2 separate regions of the Homo sapiens genome follow, and region 2 is linked to region 1. Evidence: fine-mapped expression QTL. A gene starts in region 1. The other region holds a variant in brackets. All regions are shown on one strand. Distances are between the middles of the regions.

The links.
Region 2: its variant is fine-mapped to the expression of COA4 in whole blood (TOPMed, PIP above 0.99).

What each region holds. Positions count from the first base shown.
Region 1 is chr11:73,872,098-73,882,719 of GRCh38, forward strand. COA4 (cytochrome c oxidase assembly factor 4 homolog) reads right to left here and starts at 4,749. Exons shown (of 2, transcript NM_016565.3): 1 at 4,660-4,749; 2 at 570-1,297. The coding sequence starts at 1,281. The coding sequence ends at 1,018. It overlaps PAAF1 (proteasomal ATPase associated factor 1), which reads left to right and starts at 4,902. Exons shown (of 12, transcript NM_025155.3): 1 at 4,902-4,971; 2 at 6,682-6,722. The coding sequence starts at 4,925. RefSeq lists enhancers at 5,000-5,049, 5,070-5,139.
Region 2 is chr11:73,652,639-73,663,260 of GRCh38, forward strand. PLEKHB1 (pleckstrin homology domain containing B1) reads left to right here. Exons shown (of 8, transcript NM_021200.3): 5 at 337-376; 6 at 3,165-3,269; 7 at 8,115-8,214; 8 at 8,828-10,181. The coding sequence ends at 8,964. Among named protein-coding and RNA genes, the nearest start is that of PLEKHB1, 11 kb to the left of the region's middle. RefSeq lists enhancers at 7,643-8,487, 8,488-9,330 and a silencer at 8,393-8,564. The variant G/A (reference allele first, on the strand shown) is at 5,898.

The DNA.
Region 1 (10,622 bases):
ATTTGGGAGGCAGAGGTTGCAGTGAGCCGAGACTGCGCTACTGCACGCCAGCCTGGGCAACAGAGCAAGACTCCATTTCAAAAAAAAAAAAAAGAATAGAATGGAAGAGTCGTTTTGTTGAAGAAAAATGAGAAATGATATGCAACTGTTTTGAATGGGAAAACACAACCTACTTAAAGGGGGAGTTATTATTCAGCTCCAGCAAATTGTTAAGAGGGAATAAAAATCAATGTTGACATCTTCTCCCCTTTTCAAAAGCTGAAAATCTGTATTTTAGTGTTAAATATACTCTAAAAATGTTAGCCCAACTTTGTGTTTGTTGGGTTGGGAGCAAGTTAAAGCCAGACTTGGTATCTGTTAATTCAACAGAATCTGGCATTTAATAGGTACTCAATGTTTGAATAATTAGCTGGGTGTGGTGATGCACACACCTGTGGTTCCAGCTACTTGAGAGGCTGAGGTGGGAGGATGGCCTGAGCCCACTGAGGATGCAGTGAGCCCTGACTCCACCACCACACTCCAGCCTGGGCAACAGAGACCCTGTCTCAAAAAAACAAAAGAAAAACATATTTGAATAAAAAGTTTCCCCATTTATTTTTCCTTCCACTAAACTGATTGAAACATCCAGAACAAGTGATGAAAGAGAAAGGCACTAATTAGGTAATCAATTTACCATTAGATTGTAAATTTAATTTAAAATAAAATGTCCCTAAAATCATCTCAGTACTTGGCACACTGACTTAAGATGTGGGGTGGGGGAGCATCCCTTAACACATTCTTTGTTTTCCTGGTAAATACTGGTGGAACAAGACAGCTGAGAATGTATGACATCTGACCATGAACATATGACAGCTGTTTGTGCCAGTCATGTCCAAACCCATGGCTCTCAACTCCAGATCCAAAAACTCTCCCCATGTTTTAGACCTCCCACACCAGCATTTAGGATTTCTTCCTCTATAATCTTGCTGGGTGCTGGTCTTGGCAGGGCCATCTACTGGGGATAGGTGGTTTGGGGTCTCAGTGGTGGGCACCGGCTTGTTCTTGCCTCCTCTGCAGCTCCTCTTGCCGCCTCGCCTGCTGTTCACTCATGCAATCCTTGAACGCCTGCACCTGTGGCTGGCATTGCCGCCAGTCCTGGTGCTGGGCCATGCACTCCTGCACTGCAAAGTGGGAGGCAGCACAGCCAGAGCGGGAGATCAGCTGGTCCAGCGGGTCCTCCTCCTCATCGTCTTTCTTCACCCGTTGGGTCCAGGTATGGCCTTGAGGGACTGAGGTTGACATCCTGGGGATGGGGAGTCTATAGAACATTAACAGGTTAGAGTAGGGATATAATATGTAAGGTTCCTAAATTATAAATAGCACTGACCAGACTGCACCATTTAGCCTGTTTAATGTGTCTGTCTCCCGTGGGAGACTCTAAGCTTGAAGACAGATGCTTGTTTTTTTTTTTTTTTTTTTGAGGGTGTCTTGCTTTGTTGCCCAGGCTCACTGTAGCCTCCATCTTTAGGGATCAAGCAATCCTTCCCCCTCAGTCCCTCCCTGGCCAGAGTAGCTGGGACTACAGGTGTGCATCACCACTCAGCTAATTTTTTTGATTCTTTAATAGAGACAAGGTTTTTCCATGTTGCTCAGCATGGTCTCAAACTCCTGGGCTCAAGTGATCCTCCTGCCTTAGCCACCCAAAATGCTGGGATTACAGGTGTGAGCCAACTGTGCCCGGCTGATGTTCGTCTTGATTTACCTTTGTGCCCCCAGCACTAGGCCTGGCTGAGAGCAGGCCTGAAAAGTGGTTTGAACTGAATGAGATAAACTGTGAGAATGCTTGACATAACATTCAATAAGCTCAGTGGATTTTGCTATTGGAATATGAATTAGGTGAAATGTCATCTTTTTAGATAAGCTATCTCTGATCTACCTAAAAAGAACTAAACTTTCAGCTAGGTACGATGGCTCACACCTGTAATCCTAGCATTATGGGAGGCTGAGGCAGGAAGATCCCTTGAGCCCAGGAATTTGAGACCAGCAGGGGTAATAGCAAGACCTCATCTCTACAAAAAAATTTAAAAATGGCTGGATACGGTGGCTCATGCCTATAATCCCAGCACTTTGGGAGACTGAGGCAGTCGGATCACCTGAGGTCGGGAGATCAAGATCAGCCTGACCAACATGGAGAAACCCGTCTCTACTAAAAATACAAAATTAGCAAGGTGTGGTGGCATATGCCTGTAATGCCAGCTACTCAGGAGGCTGAAGCAGGAGAGCCGAGGTTGAACTCGGGAGGCGGAGGTTGCGGAGAGCCGAGATCACACCATTGCACTCCAGCCTGGGCAATAAGAGCAAAACTCCATCTCAAAAAAAAAGAAAAAAGAAAAAAAATGTAAAAATTAGCTGGGCATAGTGGCACACACTTGTAGTCCCAGGTACTCAAGAGGCTGAAGAGGGAGAATCCTTTGAGCCCAGGAGTTCAAAGGCTGCAGTGAGCTATGATGGTGCCACTGTACTCCAGCTTAGGTGACATAGTGAGACCCTGTTTCAAATAAATAACCTTTCTTCTTTTATCCTACTAGCCTTATTCTATGCTGAAGAACAAAGTTTAAAAAGTGAAAGAGGCTGGGTGCAGTGGCTCACACATGTAATCCCAGCAATTTGGGAGCCCGAGGCAGATGGATCATAAGGTCAGAAGTTCAAGACCAGCCTGGCCGGGATGATGAAACCCCGTCTCTACTAAAAATACAAAAATTAGGCGGGCGTGATGGCAGGCACCTGTAATCCCAGCTACTCGGGAGGCTCAGGCAGGAGAATCGCTTTAACCCAAGGGGCGGAGGTTGTAGTGAGCCAAAGATCGTGCCACTGCACTCCAGCCTGGGTGACAGAGTGAGACTCCATCTCCAAAACAAACAAACAAACAAAGTGAAAGAGTGCCCAAATATGGGTAGGTTTTGACACATGGGAAGGATGGAAAGAGTTCACTGTGGCTGTAGCATACAGTATGCAGAAACCTGGCCTCTGGGTCTATAAGGTGAGATGGCTTTGTAAACTATACAAAAATGTGAGGTGTATTTATTTGCCCAAACTGTCTTGCCCGTCTGCATCAGAACACTCAGCAGAAAGCAGCATACAGAAGGAACTTAAGGTTTGAAGAGAAATGACTTCAGCCTTTGCAAAAATTTCACCATGATGGGCTGTAAAGCAACTAGGACTCCTTATTGCCTTAACTGTGTCTCTCATTCACTCAACAAATGATTAAGTACCTATCATGTACCAGGCACTATGCTAGTGCTGAGGATTCAAGACTGTCTAAGTCAGTTAAGTTCCTGGCTTCATGGAGTTTACAACCTAGACAAGGAAACAGGGCAGTTTACTACACAGTGTACAGATAGCAAAGACTGGGACCACAGTGGAGGGATGCCTAATCCAGACAAGGGCAGGAATAGGCAGGGAAGGCTTCCTAGAGGAAGTGATTTCCAAGCTGAAACTTGACAGATGGAACAGAAGTTAGCCAGAGATGGGAAAACTATTTTTGGTCAATGGAAGAGCAGGTGGTTGAGATAGAATCTGACACATGAGAGCAAAAAAAAAAAAAAGTTCAGTGATGGGAGAATACAGTGTGAGAATAAGACAATATTAAACTGGCGATATAAGTAAGTGATCATCACAAGGCTTTGTAGGACATAGTAGGGAGTTTAAGACTTTTTATTCTGAGGGCAATGGGGAATCACAAGAGGGAGTTAGGCACTTTACACAACTCATTTGCCTTGGAGGCGGTATAACTTAAGCAAGAGGGAGAAAATGGGCTTTGAAACAGACTTGGACCTAGCTTTGTCACTGCCTCATTTGGTGCCCTTGGACACATCATTTAATAACCTCTCTGGAAGCACAGAGATGAAGCCGGGTGCCATGGCTCACGCCTGTAATCCCAACACTGGGAGGCTGAGGCGGGAGGATGGTTTGCGCCCAGCCTGGGCAACACTGTGAGCCGTGATCACGCCACTGCATTCCAGCCTGGGTTACAGCGGGAGACCCTGTCTCAAAAAAAAAAAAAAAGAAAAAAAAAAAGGTAAGGTTTGTAAGGAGGCTGGTATGTCTAAAGAGTTCAATAAATGATAGTTTTCTCTTCCTAAATACACTGTTAACTCTTTAAATAGGGCCAGGAGCAAATAATTTAGAGAAAGAACAGTGGAATAGAAAGTGCCTTGATCCTAAACCAAGAGATCCGTGTTCAAATCCCAGCACTACGCCTTACTATGTAATCTTTTTCATTTTAGTTTTCCCATTAATAATATTTAATTCGCACAATTAGAATGAAGATTAATATAACGAATGAAAAGCGCTTGGGCTACTATAGGACTCAGTAAATGCTGCTGTACTCTCCTCTCACCACCTTTTGGCTTCAGTCTCCTCTGGAGTAAAATGACGACGACCCCTGCTCAGAGATCAGGGTAGGCTAGATGGTTGGCAGCTGGATCGTGGAGGCTGGCCTAAACAAGGAAGTCATGGAAAGGATCTTAAAGCAGAAAAATGCTGGCAGCCACGAGGCCTGAGGCGCCTCAGGCGTATCGAGGACTTTGAACTTTGAGGACGCATGCGCGCGCGCGGCCGCTGATCGCAGCCCCGTTGTGCCCGCAACGCCTCCTGAAGAACGCGGTACGCGATGCTCACCGAACAGGTGGGAGAAGAGGGCCCGAACGCACGCTCCTACGCGGCGGCTTGGGTTTCGCAGGCGGTTGGGGATCCTCTGTACATCCTTTCAGGAACCAGCCCCTCGTGGGGAGCGTGCACACGGAAGGGGCGGGGAATGTGAAAAAGTCACGTTTTCATTGGTGGCCTCTTGGTGTTGAGCCCACCTCTGTCCTCGCCGCACGCTTCTCGGGGACTCACTTCCGGGAAGGGGCGGAAGAGGTGGGCTGGTGGAGGCGGGGTCGAGATGGCGGCGCCTTTGAGGATTCAGAGCGACTGGGCGCAAGCCCTCAGGTGAATCCAGGCCCAGAACAGAGTCAGAGGAGGCGGGTAGTGGATGTTGCTTTGCGTCAAGGAGAGCCATGCCTGGTCCAGGATATCAATAGGGGTTACTTCGTCAATTGTCGAGGGATATGGAGGGAACAGGGTCCGGAAAAAGAAGTATCAAACCCGTATGGTCATTCTCTGAAAAGCTATCCCTAGGCCAAGGGAGCACATGAGCTGTGTGATCCCCGCGTCAGAACTAGTATCAGTGAGTTGGAGAAAGACAGGGATACTGGGAGGCAGGAAGGCTTTTGGCCAAGCAGTCATTTAGCAAATATTGATTAGTCGTCAGTTACTTCCAGAAGTCTCTGTACTCACCACCACTTTGTGTATGTGATGGAACCTTTGTATTCTCCTAGGCCCCTAATGCTATATTAGGCATACTGGACGATACTATTAAGGAAACTAATACTGTGTCCAGGCCCCATACTGGATGCTTGGTGGAGCTCAGATGTATACTCTAAATATAAGTGATGGTTCCTGCTCTTCAAGAAGCTGACATCCAGGCCAGGCGCAGTGGCTCATGCCTGTAATCCCAGCACTTTGGAAAACTGAGATTGGTGGATCAGTTGAGGTCAGAAGTTCGAGACCAGCCTGACCAACATGGTGAAACTCCGTCTCTACTAAAAATACAGAAATTAGTCGGGCTTGGTGGTGGGCGCCTATAATCCCAGCTACTCGGGAGGCTGAGGCAGGAGAATCGGTTGAACCCAGGAGGTGGAGGTTGCAGTGAGCCGAGATTGCACCACTGCACTCCAGCCTGGGTGACAGAGCGATACTCATCTCAAAAAAGAAGAAAAGCTGACGTCTTAATTAGGAATACACAGCAAACTATTCATTCATCTAACATTTATTGATCTTATACTATTCCAGTTATTTCTCTAGGCTTCAGGATGAATATAGCAGTGCTATATTTGGCAACTGCTACTACTAATAAGGGTTTTTCAAATTGAAACAATGGTGAAGATGAATGAAACATAGCCTTCTGCATTTAAGAAATTTACACCTTACTAAATTTATACCTTACTTAATTTAGGTGGGCTAAAATACAGACTAGTTGCTAGTACACAGAATGTGATAAGTAATAAAGAACAATAACATGAAGTGCCACTAGCTACCTATGAGAAAATACAGCACCAGAATCAGAAGGCTTAATTTGCCCAAGATCATGCATCTCGTCAAATGATAGAGGGTTGCTGTCAACCTAGATCTTTCTGTCTTAAATGCATAGACCCTTTCCATTATACCCTAAAAGTGCTAGGGTGAAGAGATCAGGATTTGGATGATTGGGCAGGTGCTAAAATAATAAAAGGAATCTTGTTTGGTTATTGTGAGGGTTAATGATTGTGTATGGAAAGTGCTTAGCACAGGGCTTGGTTTACAATAATCCTGATAAATAATTAAATAACCTTGATTTTTCAAAGTGAGCTCACTGTTGATGGATGAGCATTAATTTAACCAACAGATATCTATTCATTAAATAGTTAATCCACAAATATTTCTTGAACAAATAAAGTTTGTCTGTCTTAGAATGATCTATACTCGATGAGAGGTTGGACTATCTCATGTCTAAGTACTATGACCAAGCTGGAGGTTACATGACCTTCTTTCTTCCCTTGTAACTATGGGATCCTATTCAACTTTGGGTAAGCCTAATTAGGCTTTTGTCTTTCTTCGTAGGAAGGATGAAGGGGAGGCCTGGCTGAGCTGTCATCCCCCAGGTAATACCCATGAATTATATATGCTGTGACTTTAAAGGAGAAGGATTAATACCCTTAAAAGAAAGCTTCCTACTTTCTCCTGGCCCAGCCTCCTTACATAATAGTCTGCAAACATGCTTGACCAGTCTGTACTGTATGGCCAACACCCCAACTCCTCCATTCCAAGGGAAGGCCTTCAGATTGATTTTCCATTTGAAAGCCACAGACTTATTCATGGAGACATTGTTGATGCATCTTAATTAGTCACTTACCCTGTGCTATTGTATTCTAAGCACTTCTGCAGCTTCAACTGGGACTTTCTTGATGATAATTTCTAGATCTACAGCCCCAGCCCTGACTTCTCCATGTTCAAGCAGAGATTGATCAGTTGTTTGCTAGATATTTCTGCTTAAAGGTCTCACTGTCACCTTAAGTTACTGGACTTACTGAAGTCCAAAACCAAGCTAAGTACATTTGTTGTCAAGTGAGTTCTCTTTCCTGATTTTTCTCATTTCTTAAGTTACCATCATTTTTCTAGGCATCAGAGTGAAAAACCTAGTTACTTGACCCTGCCATATCCAGGAAGCTCCCAAGTCTTATCAATTTTTCTTTTGAACAACAGTCTTATATCATTCACAGGATTCTTTTCAAATTGTAACCGAGGTGGTACCATTCTAAAACAAATCAACCTTCCTTCTAAATTCTGTAAGAAAGTTTTGTTTTGCTGATTATCTTTCATTTCAAATGCTGCTGATATATTGTATTTCTATGAGAAATAAAGTTTTGGCCAGGCACAGTGGCTCACACCTGTAATCCTAGCACTTTGGGAAGCTGAGGCAGGAGGATCACTTGAGCTCAGGAGTTCGAGACCAGCCTGGGCAACAAAGTGAGACCCCCTCCCCATCTCTATAAAAAACAAAAAAAATTAGTCAGGCATAGTGGCATGCGCATGTAGTCCCAGCTACTTGGGAGGCTGCAATAGGAGGATCTCTTGAGCCCGGGAGGTTGAGGCTGCAGTGAGTTATGATCGAACCATTGCACTTTTGCCTGGGTGACAGAGTGAGACCCCATCATTAAAAAAAAAAAGACTATTGTTTATATCAGTGGAATAAAGGATGGACTTTATAGTGCTGTGACTTGCCAATCATCTTAAAAATAAGGCCAGACGTGGGGGCTCATACCTGTCATCCACCATTCTGGGAGGCCAAGGCGGAGGATTGCTTGAGACCAGCCTGGGAGACATAGGGAGACCTCGTGTCTACAGCAAATAAAACTAGCTGGGCATGGTGTTGGGTGTCTGTAGTCCCAGCTACTCAAGAGGCAGAGGTGGGAGGATTGCTCAAGCCCAGCAAGTCAAGGCTGCAGTGAGCTGTGATTATGCTACTGGACCTCCTACCCTGGACAAGGGTAGCCGTGATCATGCTGCGTGGTCTCCTACCCTGGACCAGAAAGTGAGACCCTGGCTCTAAAAAAAGAAACACACACACAAATACACAAATATATATATATACACACACACATATACATATGTATACTTAACATAAAAATTCAAGGAAAATACTGTATTTTATTTTACCTATTTTATTGTGCTTAATTATGTTCAAAAATCCTATTCTAACTGCTTGAGCTAGGATTGTGCCACTGTACTTCAGCCTGAGAGACAGAGCAAAACCCTGTCTCAGTTAAAAAAAAAAAAAAAAGCCAGGTGCGGTGGCTCTACTAAAAAAAAATACAAAAAATTAGCCGGATGTGGTGGTGGGCCCCTGTAGTCCCAGCTACTCGGGAGCCTGAGGCAGGAGAATGGAGTGAACCCGGGAGGCGGGGCTTGCAGTGAGACCAGATAGTGCCACCGCATTCCAGCTTGGATGACTGAGCAAGACTCTGTCTCGAAAAAAAAAAAAAAAAAAAAAAAAAAAAAAGCCAGGCACAGCAGCTCACGCCTGTGATCCTAGCACTTTAGGAGGCTGTGGCGGGCGGATCACCTGAGGTCAAGAGTTTGAGACCAGCCTGGCTAACATGGTGAAGCCCTGTTTCTACTAAAAATACAAAAAATTACCTGGGCGTGGTGGTGCATGCCTGTAATCCCAGCTACTCGGAAGGCTGAGGCAGGAGAATCGCTTAAACCCAGCAGGTGGAGGTTGCAGTGAGTGGAGATCGTGCCATTGCACTCCAGCCTGGGCAACAAGAGCGAAACTCCATCTCTAAATAAATAAATAAATAAAATAAAAATACACAAAAGACCTACATTTTATTTTAACTAAAATATATAAACATACATTAAAATTCACCTTCTCTTTATTAGTCCACTTATTATTACAAGGACCTTGGCTATCTTGTAATAAACTGTAACCAAAAGGCACAGTTTCTTTAAAGCAAGGCAAATCTTTACTTAGGCTAAAAAAGCAATCTAAGAGCAAAACATCAACTGGGGTTTATATTTTTTTAGATCTTTTCCCTAATATTTTGCATTTTTCTTGCCGATACATACTATTAAAGCAGTATTTTTTAAACAGAATCTAGCTCTGTCACCTAGGCTGGAATGCAGTGGCATGATCTCAGCTCACTGCAACCTCCAGTCCTAGGTTCAAGGGATTCTTGTGCCTCAGCCTCCTGAATAGCTGGGACTACAGCTGGGACTACTACCATGCCCAGCTAATTTTTGTATTTTTAGTAGAGACAGGGTTTCACCATGTTGGCCAGGCTGGTCTTGAACTCCTGAGCTCAAGTGATCCGCCCGCCTTGGCCTCCCAAAGTGCTGGGGTTACAGGTGTGAGCCACTGCCCCCGGCCTAAAACAGTTTTAAAAAAACATTATCAAGTCTTTACAAAGCAACAAACTTAATGTTGTTGTTGTTGTTGTTGTTTTAAATTACCAAGCTACCTTCAACAACCAAGGAGTTTTTTTGTTTGTTTGTTTGTTTGTTTTTGAGATGGAGTCTCACTCTGTTGCCCAGGCTGGAGTGCAGTGGTGCAATCTTGGCTCACTGCAACCTCTGCCTCCTGGGTTCAAGCAATTCTCCAGCCTCAGCCTCCCAAGTAGCTAGGACTACAGGCGCGTGCTACCATGCACGGCTAATTTTTTGTATTTTTTTTTGAGATGGAGCTTTGCTCTTGTTGTCCAGGCTGAAGTGCAATGGTGCCATCTTGGCTCACTGCAACCTCCGCCTCCCAGATTCAAGCAATTCTCCTGCCTCAGCCTCCCGAGTAGCTGGGATTACAAGCATGTGCCACCATGCCTGGCTAATTTTGTATTTTTTTTTTTTAATAGAGACAGAGTTTCTCCATGTTGGTCAGGCTGGTCTCGAACTCCCAACCTCAGGTGACCCGCCTGCCTCAGCCTCCCAAAGTGCTGGGATTACAGGCGTGAGCCACTGTGCCCCGCAATTTTTTGTATTTTTAGTAGAGATGGGGTTTCACTGTGTTAGTCAGGATGGTCTCCATCTCCTGACCTCGTGATCCGCTCCCTGGCCTCCCAAAGTGCTGGGATTACAGGCGTGAGGCACCGTGCCTGCACTTTTTTTTTTTTTTTTTTGAAGGTAACTTGTAGATTCAGTTTTCTTTATGAATTGGAGTTAATGATGTCAACTCTTAAGGAGGAGGGTGGTTTTTGTTTCTGTGTGTGTTTATTTTTATTTTTATTATTTATTTATTTATTTATTTATTTTTGAGATGGAGTTTCGCTCTTGTCGCCCAGGCTGGAGTGCAGTGGTGCGATCTCCGCTCACTGCAACCTCCACCTCCTGGATTCAAGCGATTCTCCTGCCTCAGCCTCCCAAGTAGCTGGGATTTCAGACATGCGCCACCACGCCTGGCTAATTTTTTTGAGACGGAGTCTCGCTCTGTTGCCCAGGCTGGAGTGCAGTGGCATGTTCTCGGCTCACTGCAAGCTCCGCCTTCCAGGTTCATGCCATTCTTCTGCCTC
Region 2 (10,622 bases), 220 kb before region 1:
GATGTGGAGGGGGACTGGGCTACAACACCCACCCAAGAGTGTCAGAATCTGACATCCCCTGAGAGACCACCCAAGCCCAACCGTCCACTGTATAGATGAGGAAACTGGAACTTCTAGAGGGGACGAGAAGAATGAATTAGCCTAACTTAGTGCTCCATCCATGTGACTGGGGCAGGGGAGGGGTCACTTTTGTCTTCCTGAGGGAGACAAGAGATCTCTCCTTTCATGAGAGACTTGGGCTTGAGGCTGGGTTGGAGAGGAAAGTCTAAAATGTGGGGGCCCAATTCACCCACCCCCAAACTCCCTCCTCATGGTCTGGTGGGATTTGCTTTGCAGAGCATGGAAGACAGCACTGCTGGAGGCAAACTCCACCCCGGTGAGTCTCCCGTTCTCTCCCCCTTTCCCCACCACCTCCATGTGCCATGGAATCATGAGTGACTCAGACTCGGTCTCCACCTGCCAGAAGTTCTCAGTCTTATGTGGATAGGTTTCTGCAAACTCTGATGCCTGAGTCCCAAGTGTTCGGGGAAAGGATAAGGGAGAGCCAACTGGTGCTCAGAGGAGAGAGAGAAGCCTCCATGGAGATTTGCTGGAGGGAGTGGCACATGAGCTGGGGAGAAGGAACTGTCTTTTATCGAGCAACTATTATGTGCCAGGTGTGGTGCAGGTATCATTCCAGCTGCTCCTCACAACAGTCCTGTGAAGTTGGGGTTATTGTTCTCTCTCTGCAGATGATAAGACTGAAGCTCATTCATCCGCACAACAAATATTTACTGAGCTGCTACTATGGGCCAGGTGGTGTGCCAAGTGCCAGGGATCAGAGGTGAACCAAGGAGATATGGGCTCTGCCCACCTGGACTCAGCCTAATGAGAAGCCAGACATGGAACAACTAATTAATTATTCCATTTCAATAGTAATAACAGCTCTGACAGAGATTTGCAGTGTCTGGCCCTTTCATCCAGGTGGTAGTTCAGGCAAGGCTTAAACCGAGGACTGAAGGATAAACAGAAATTGACTGGGTGAAAGGTGTGGGGATCGGGTAAAGGGCACGGCATTCCAGGCAGAGGGATCAGCATGTGCCAAGGCTCTGAGAGAGGTTAAGACATTTGGCAAGTTGAGGAACAGAAGGACAGCTGGGGTGGCTGGTGCTTAGGGAGTGAGTGGGTAAGGAGGGAAGGAGGGTTGGCACGACCAGGTCTTGTGGGCTGTATGAAGGATGTTGGTTTCTGCTAAGAGCACCAGGGAGCCATGACAAGTTTTTGAACAGAGGGATGGCATGATCAGATCAGGTTCAATTTATATTTTTAAAAAGATAATTGTTGTAACGTTGGGGCATGTAAAAAAAAGGGGGTAGTCTGTCAGTTTATGAAATTTTGTTGTAGAAAAAAGGAAAAAAAAAAAGATAGTCTGGCTGGTAGGTAGGGAATGGATTATAGAGGGTAACTGCAGACACCCAGAGGCCACTTAGGAGGCTGGGACAGTGTCCGGGCAACAGACTGGAGATCTGGATTAAGGCCTTGTTGGCCGAGACAGGCTGATGAGTACAGGACATATTTAGGAGATGGAGTCAACAGAGCTTGTGACTGATGGAAGTGGCGGTTTGAAGAGCCGCCCAAAGCCCAGCTTGGCCTCCACCCCCATCTGCCTGACTCCAGAATCTGTGCTTGCTCTTTCTCTGTATGGCACAATGGAGCCCCCTCTCACCTATAGAGAAAGTCCGTTGGGAAGTAGCAGGGGAGACCTGGATGCATTTAGAAACCTCCTCAGGCATCCACGTCCTGAGTGCCAGGCATCATGCTAAGCCCCTGGCAGCAGTGACATCATTTCATCTTCCAACAACCCTGGCAGGGCAGCTGGGTGGGGGTTGGTATTATTAGTCCCATTTTACAGATAAGGAAGCCGAGGTTCAGAGAGGGGAGGTGACTTGTCCAAAGCTTATACTCTTAAGTCAGTGGAAAAGCCTACCATGGAACCTAGGTCAGTGAGATTTTGAGAGGAGGGCGTTATCTGCAGAAGTAGCTGCATGAGCAGAGACAGAGAAGTGATGTGTGCACATGTGTGTGTGCACAAGTGCTTATGCACATATGCATGCGTCTAAGGGCCCAGAGTCTGCCTGGCTGGAGAGCAATTCATGAGGCGAATGAAACAGGAGAGATGACCTCTGAGGTCATCGGGGCCAGCTCATGATGGGCCTCAAAGTCCAGTTGGAAGAAATGGACTTTCCCTGAGGCCTGTAGGGAGCAATAAAGGGCATTCAGCAGCGAGGGCTGTGGTCAGATTTTGGGGAGCAGACTCAGGCTTCCAAGTGGCGGGTGAATTGGAGAAAGCTGGGAGTAAGGAGGCTACAGCAGTAGTCTGCAGGGTGGAGGGACCCAGGTCAGGCTACCCTGGCTCTGAGCTCCAAAGCCTCTTTATGTGGGGCAAGTCAGTTCCACCAAAGAGAGGCGGAGGGAAGGAGGCAAGGGTGACTGTCTGCACTCTGTGACTCTATGAAGCGGCCTCGTCCTTCTCTGCCTGTCCATCTCCTGTGGCTCTGCTGACCCTTCTCTCTGCCCTGGCCTCTATTCTACCTCCCACTACTCCACATATACACGTCCTTCTGTGCCCGGGCTTACTAGAGTCGGGGTGTATTTGTGCCTGTGTCTACCTATCTTTGTGTGTTCACCTCTGTTTATGGGCTTCTCTCTGTAGCCTGTGTGGGAATGACCTGCCCTTTGTCCTCCGACATGCTGGAGTTCATACCTCACTCCAGGTGGAGGCTCCAGGAGCCCCTAACACCAGCTTTACTGGGAACACAGGGCCTGGGGGCACAGCTAGGGACGAGGCTGGGGTGAAGCGGACCAGGTGGGCTAGAGGACAGAAGGGAGTCGCCCTGTCCTCCCTGGAGACTGGGAACCCCAGCAGGATGAAATAGGGGAGGGTGGGCTAATTCTGGAAAGAGACTACTTGTCCTTCTTTTCTGCGTAACTTTGGCAGTCATCAGCATTCTCTGAGCCTCCCCCGTTACCATGAGCTGAGGAGAAAGAGGATGCTCCCTGCCACAGCCCAGCTGGCGGAGGGCTCTGGTAGGGTCTGGAAAGAGCTCTTGAGTCTCTTTAGGTGTAGAGGGCCTCTGACACCCCCTCCCTCCCTCCTCCTTCTTGGGTTTCTGTGGCTTGAGCAGGCCCCAGCTGGAGCCACCGTCCCTCCCAGGAGCCGCCGGGTTTGCTCCAAGGTCAGGTGTGTGACCCGCTCGTGGAGCCCCTGTAAGGTTGAGAGGCGGATCTGGGTAAGTGCTGGCTCGGCCCTCCCTGCCTCCATACTGGCCACCAGGATGAGCCTCCAAAACCAGGCCCAGTCCATCCCTTCCCTGTGACAAACATTCCATGGCTCCCTATCACCCACAGGACACAAACCAGCTGCTCTGCTGTACCCTCTGTCCCCAGCCACACCAGACCTTTTCCCTCTGCCAGCCTTCGCACATGCTGTTCCCTCTGCTGACAAGACCTCAGTTTCCTCATTCACCTGACAAACTGATGCTCATCCTGTAAGGCCCACCTCAAAGGCTGCCTGCCACCTACTCAGTGGGGACTTCCTAGACCACTAGGCATCGTCATTCCCTCCCTCAGCCTAGCGGCACCAAGGCTTAGTGCTTTCTTCATTCTGCCTGGTTTCAGAGCTGGTTTATTCCTGTCTGTGTAGTCTTCCATGAGGCCTAGAACTTCCTCCAAGGCAAGAATGAGGCCTGATTGCGCTGCCTCTATGGAACTTGGCACAAGGCTAGGTAAATGGCACATGCTCAATTAGTGCTCGATGATGGGGAGTCTATGCTGACCTTTCTTACACAGTGGGGCTCAGGGAATGTTCACTGAGTGAGCAAAGGAAGGAAGGAGGGAGTGAAAAACTTCCTTTATAGCAATACTACTACATAGTCTAATTTAGTCTAGGTCTGTCTCCCCTCACCCTCAATGTTTCTTGAAGGCAGGATCTGGCCTGAATCTTTTCTCTGTCCCCAGAACTCAGCACAGGGCCTGGCATGGGGTGGGTGGCAGGAGGGGGCTTGAGTGAGAGTACCTGTGATCTTATAGTCAACTCTGAGCTCATCTTACACAGTGGTGCTCAGTGTGGCTATGTATCAGGATTGTTTAGGAACTTACAAGCACTAATAACAAGTATTCATGTTCCACCTCTGGATGTTTTAATCTGGCATGGGGCCTAGGCCTAGGAAACCTGTAGTTTAAACCTGTCTCCTGGCCAGGCCTGGTGGCTGACACCTATAATCCCAGAACTTTGGGAGGCTGAGGCGGGCAGGTTGCAAGGTCAGGAGTTCAAGACCTGCCTAGCCAACATGGTGAAACCCCATCTCTACTAAAAGTACAAAAATTAGCAAGACATGGTGTAATCTCAGATACTCAGGAGGCTGAGGCAGGAGAATGGCTTGAACTCAGGAGGCGGACGTGGTTGCAGTGAACCAAGATCACCCCACTGCACTCCAGCCTGGGCAACAGAGTAAGACTCCATCTCAAAAAAAAAAATTGTCTCCTGATGACTCTGATGTGCAGAATCACTAAGCCTAGAAGTGCCTGGGCCACCAAATTGTATAGATGTGGCACTGTTAGATCCTCAGTGGCTTGGAGAGGTTACCTAACTTGATCAGGGTCACTCAACTCATCAATGGCAGGTCTGGGACTCCCAGCCCATCGTTCTGAGGTATTTTCCATGCCCAAACTAGGATGCAAGTTTGTTTAAAGTGGGGATGTCAAAAACTAGGATTTAACAGACTGTAAACCTAATAACACAACAGCTCAGCTAAGGGGAGTCATTTGCATGTGACCCCCTGATTGGTCAACACTGGTTGTACCCACAAAGTAGCTGGGCCTCTGGAGAGGGAGAGGCAGGTTCAAACCCTCAGGTTCTGCCCATGGGTCTCTGGGCTGTCCCTATTTGTTGCCAGGTGACTTATAGGAGTTTACTTCTGGGCCTCCCAGACGTGGAGAGTAAAAACAGGTGCCCTCGAGGGATATGGGGTGCTCCACCCTCTCCAGGGCCTCCCAAGGCCACTGGCTCACTGTGTAGCAGCAGGGCAAGGTGGAGGCTGTGGACCTCAACTTCCCCACCAATAAAATTGGACCTGAGAGCTTAGATCCCTCCAACCCCTTTTGGGCCTGGAGCCTGGATCTTGGCACTGCCTACCAGAAATCCCTATTGGATCACTGATGGGGAGGGAGCACCGTAGAGTTCACTGACTTACGACATTGCTTGTCTGAGCCTCTTGCATTGTCTTGGGACTATATGTTTTCCCTGACTTGAAACTGAACTCAGAGTTGGGCAACCTTAGTTCCAGTCTGGCCCTGTATTTGATTCACTGGAATGAATTCAATAAACATTTATTAGGTACCTGCCATGTTCCAGTCAGATCTGATTAGACCCAGTCTCTGCCCTCAAAGGCATCTCCAAGTCTGATGGGAGAGACACAGGGAAACAACGTGAAGACAGCATGATCGGTGCTGTGATGCAGGGACATCCAAGGGCTGTGAGTGTCCAGATGGGACCCCAACAGAACCTGAGGTTCAGGGAGAGTGATGCTTGAGTTGAGTCTGAAAGACAGGTTGAATGAGGTGAGAAGCATATCCCTAGCAAAGGAAAATGGCATGGAGATTTGAAATCACAAGGTGTGCTTGGAGACCTTCCCCTTACCACCAAACTTCTTGAAAGAGATGTCATGACATGGGGATTGCATCCTTCACCTCTCAGCCTTTCTTCAACCCTCCATAGCTTGGCTTTTCCTACTCAGCAACTCCTCTGAAAAGTTTTTTCAAGGTCACTCACAACTTCCAAGTTGCTAAAACCAGTGGCCTATTATCTTGGAATTGGCCAAAAGAATGGGCAGAAGAACACATTTAGAAGATAAAATCAC[G/A]AGACCTGGTGGCTGATGTGTGGAAAGCAGATGTGTGAAGACAAGGGCAACAACCTGCTTTCTTTCCTTCTTTCTTTTTCTTTCTTTCTTTCTTTTTTTGAGACAGGATCTCCCTCTGTTGCCCAGGCTGGAGTGCAGTGGTGCAAACACTGCTCACTGCAGCCTCGATCTCCTGGGCTCAAGTGATCCTTCTGCCTCAGTTTCCCAAATAGCTGGGCCCACGGGCATGCATCACCACACTCAGCTAATTTTTTAATTTTTTGTAGAGACAGGTTCTTGCCATGTTGCCCAGACTGGTCTTGAACTCCTGCATTCAAGCAATCCTCCCGCCTCAGCCTCCCAAAGTGCTGGGATTACAGGCATAAGCCGCTGTGCCTAGCCTTTCTTGATTTGAGTGCATGGTGATGGCATGTACTGAGAGAAGCATTTATGGGGCTGGGTACTTTGGGAGGCCAAGGCGGGCAGATCACCTGAGGTCAGGAGTTCAAGACCAGCCTGGCGAACATGGTGAAACCCTGTCTCTACTAAAAATACAGAAAAATTAGCCAGGCGTGGTGGCAGGAACCTGTAATCTCAGTTACCTGGGAGGCTGAGGCAGGAGAATCGCTTGAACCCGGGAGGCGGAGGTTGCAGTGAGCTGATACCATGCCATTGCACTCCAGCCTGGACAACAAGAATGAAACTCTGTCTCAAAAAAAAAAAAAAGATTTATGGGAAAAGCAACAGTTTTAGCAGATGGAGAAATGTTGCAATCATCTTGAGATGAGTGGAGTTTGAGACACCTGGACTTCTAAGGGGAGCTGGACTGTTCAGGTGTGAATCCCAGTTAGAGAGAGATACAGGGTGGAATGGGGCTAAGAGGAAAGATCCAGAAGAGAAGGGGATCCTGACCCCTCTCCAGGTCTGCTCCCCCATGGGTAAAATGAGGGGTTTGGAGTTTCCATTTAATTCAGCACATAGTTCTTGGTTCCTGGTATGCACTTGGCCCTGCTGGTGACACAAACAAATCAGAGTCCTTGTCTACAAGCAGCTCACATTTGGGCTGCAAGAAAGGCCAGGAGAAAGGATAGCAACAAGAGGCACAAGCAAGATCCACAGAATTCAGGGAAAAAAAAAATTCTTCCTGAGACCAGGAGAGCTTCCTGGAGTGGAGTGGGTGACCGTTGAGCTAGGCTTTGAAGGGTTGGCAGAAATCTAATGGGAGAGAGGGGAGGGCAGGGAATGCATTCCAGAGAGAACACTGACCATTCTCTGAGCCTCAGTCCCCAACCCTATGGTCATGTGGAGCTAATACCTGCTTTAAGGATTAGAGGTGGTGTAACACACGTGATCACTTCCTTCAGGACCTGGTACATAGTAGGTGCTCAATAATCGTTACAGCCTAGTGCAGCCTAACAATTTTGGGTCAATGATGGACCACATATACAAAGGTGGTTCCATAAGATTATAATGGAGCTGAAAATTTCCTATCACCTAGTGATGTTGTAGCCATGATAATGTCGTAGGGCAATGCATTACATTTTCTACATTTATATATGATTAGTTAGATAACAAATACCATTGTGTTACAATTGCCTACAGTATTCAGGGCAGTAGCCTGCTGAACAGGTTTGTTGGCTTGGAGCAATAGGATATACCATATACTCTAGGTGTGTGCCACCTAGGTTTGTTTGTAAGTACACTCTATGATATTCACATAACTAAAATTGCCTAAGGACGCATTTCTCAGACTGTATCCCTGTTGTTTAAAAGACGCATAACTGTATTTTAGTTACTTCTCATCCCTATCCTTCCTTTCCCTTCCTTCCTCCCCAACCCCTGTTTATTTCCTGGGCCTGGGGCTTGGCCATGTTCCCCTCCTTGTGACTAGTAGAGCTGGGTCTTTCAAGTGGCATTATTGTAGAGCTGCTAGCAAATATTAGACTACCTATAAGGAGAAATTGGGAGCCATAGAGAATTTTTTGAGCTAGGTGGGAGGCCAGAGTTGGAGAATGGGTGTCACTGGGAGCTGGATGTAGGGCAGAAGTTTTAGAGGACCGTGGACCTTGTGGGGAGGGCAGGGCCTTTCTCCAAGAGCTTGCTAGTGGCTGGAGGCCCATTTCTAAACTTGGGGAGGTGGCTCCATGGATCCCAGAGAGGCCTGTGCCAGGCGTGGGGGTAGGGGACCAAATCCGGGCCAGGGAGTTCCTGGGCACCTGACATGGTTGGATTCCCCAGGTGCGCGTCTACAGCCCGTACCAAGACTACTACGAGGTGGTGCCCCCCAATGCACACGAGGCCACGTATGTCCGCAGCTACTACGGACCGCCCTACGCAGGTAAGTCTCCAGCGTGCCCCGGGGCTTGCCTCGATCCAGCACCGATTCAGCGCCAGGCCCAGCCCACGGTCCGTAAGTCCGGACCAGGCTTCATCCTTTTAGCGTGCACGGATTTTCCCAGGCAGAACTCTCCGCAAGCCCCTCTCCATCCTGAGACTGGGAGAGCTCTGGAACCAGCGTTCGTCTCGAGCTGACCTCACCCTTCTGGGATGGCTCCTCAGCCCTGCGGTCGGCAATACCCATTCCTGAGCCGGTAGCGGCCCCTGGTGGCTACTGCGGGAATGCTGCCTCCTCCCCGCTCTGGGGCCTGGCGGTTGGGAATGCCCATCGTTAGGCGCCTGGTGGTTGTGCTTAGCGATCTCAGGGTTTCCTCGCTGCTCCGCCCTAGCCTGCCGTAGCGGACCCGTAGGTTCCGGGACATCCGTAGCCGATCCAAGGCCTGGGAGCCGTAGGGTGGAGCTCTTCCCGCGTCTAGATCTGTTCTTTGACTGGGGAGCAGGAGAGTGGGTTCGGCGCCTTACACTGGGTTGGGCTGGAGTGATGCAGGAAGGGTACGAAGATCACTCTACTCCCTCCTAAGTCGCTGATCCTCATGGGCTGTCTCCCTCTGCAGGCCCTGGCGTGACGCACGTGATAGTGCGGGAGGATCCCTGCTACAGCGCCGGCGCCCCTCTGGCCATGGGCATGCTTGCGGGAGCCGCCACTGGGGCGGCGCTGGGCTCGCTCATGTGGTCGCCCTGCTGGTTCTGAGCCCTGGGACTCGGAGCACTGACCCCTGCGCTTGGATTGCTAGACTCCTCTTCCTCCTGGACCCCATCCTCTACCATCCAAGCCCTGTCCCACTTTGGCCCTATCCTCTCCATTAGCTCCTTCCGGGTTTGGACCATTCCCCCCACTCCCTACCCTTAATCCCCACATGGGAAGAAGCTATCATCACAGGTACAAACATCGCTTGAAGTCTTCACATCTACCACTAGACACCCCCAAAATCTGTTATAGACATTTATGGATACATTTCCTCTAAACACAACAGGGCACAGCAAATACGACTTCATTTGGCTTCGAGTTCCCCAGGCGCTGTAGACACAACATGAATCGGGCTCTCTGCTCTCTCCTTAGGGAGCTCGAGTCCTGGTGGGGAGAACAGGAGTAAACAAGGACTTGACAAAGCTGAAGAGTTATCAGTCCTTTGACAAGGACAGGTGGGGCAGGGAGCAAGACAGGTAGGCTGGAAGAACAGTTATTGGCAAGTATGCAGAGCCGTGAACGTCATGGCATGTCCAAGGAATTAAATGGGAGTTCATTTGGGCTGGGGTGGAGGCTGGGATCAGACCGTGGTGGGCCTTCAAGCTAAGGAGCTTCCTAGGTGAAAGGGGAGATGTGAGCCTTCTCTGGAGGGAAGTTTCATGATTGCATCTATAATGAATATATTGCCTGTTTTGTGAATACTGACACATGTCCATACCTAAAACACTCCTGAGTCAAGTCCCATCCTTCCCACAAACAGCTTCCTGGCTGGTACCCATGATAACAATTGAGCTGAACCTGGGGACCCCTGGTTGGGGAACAGGTGAGTTCTATTTGAGACTTCCAGCCCTAGAAAGCTGCCTCCGTCCAGAAATGCCTCTCACACCAGGAGCTCGGCCCTCTCTTTGTAGCTGTGACTGTCACCCTCTCAGGCTTTGTCTCATCCTTCATTCTGAATAAGATGGCAGTGTTCTCCTCTGGGGCCTGATCCACCTCTACACCAGCCCAGGAAGCCCCATCTGTGCCTGCCCTCAGGTGGTCCACCAGTCTCCCCCTTTGGTTCCCTTCCAGTCTCTTCCCCCTTTCTATCCCAATCACCAATAGAAATGCTAACATCCCTGCCTGGTAGCCAGACTAGCCCACTAAAGCTCCCCTGTAAATGGGGGCTCCATTAGTTCTGCTGCCGAGACTAATAAAGATTTGGTTGGCTCTAGCAGTAACTGTGGCTTGCTTTGTTCCCCCAGAAGGCCCTGTTTCCCTCTCCATGATCCAGCAGCTACTAGTGCCTTCACTGGTCTAGTGAAAAAGAGTGTGGATTCTGAGATCAGTTGGAACTGGTGACAGCATATTAGCTGAGTCATTTGGGGCAAGTCACTTAACCTTTCTGGATTTTGTTTTCCCTACACTTAAGGTAGCTGGTTGAAGTTGACCATTCCTGAGGGCTCAAGAGGAGGGACTGCCTTGGAGTCTCTGTTGTCTGAGCTGATGGATGATCCAAGCCAGGTCCTGCCTGCTTTCTGAGAATCCTGTTCATGTTGGAGTCTTTTCCAGTAGGTTCCCATCCTTCTAGAGTTGAATCAATGAATTGTTCTCATAGAAAACCAGGTGGTCAGGAAAGGAAACACCATCATCCTGCATCAGGCTTCTTGGGGCTGTCAGAT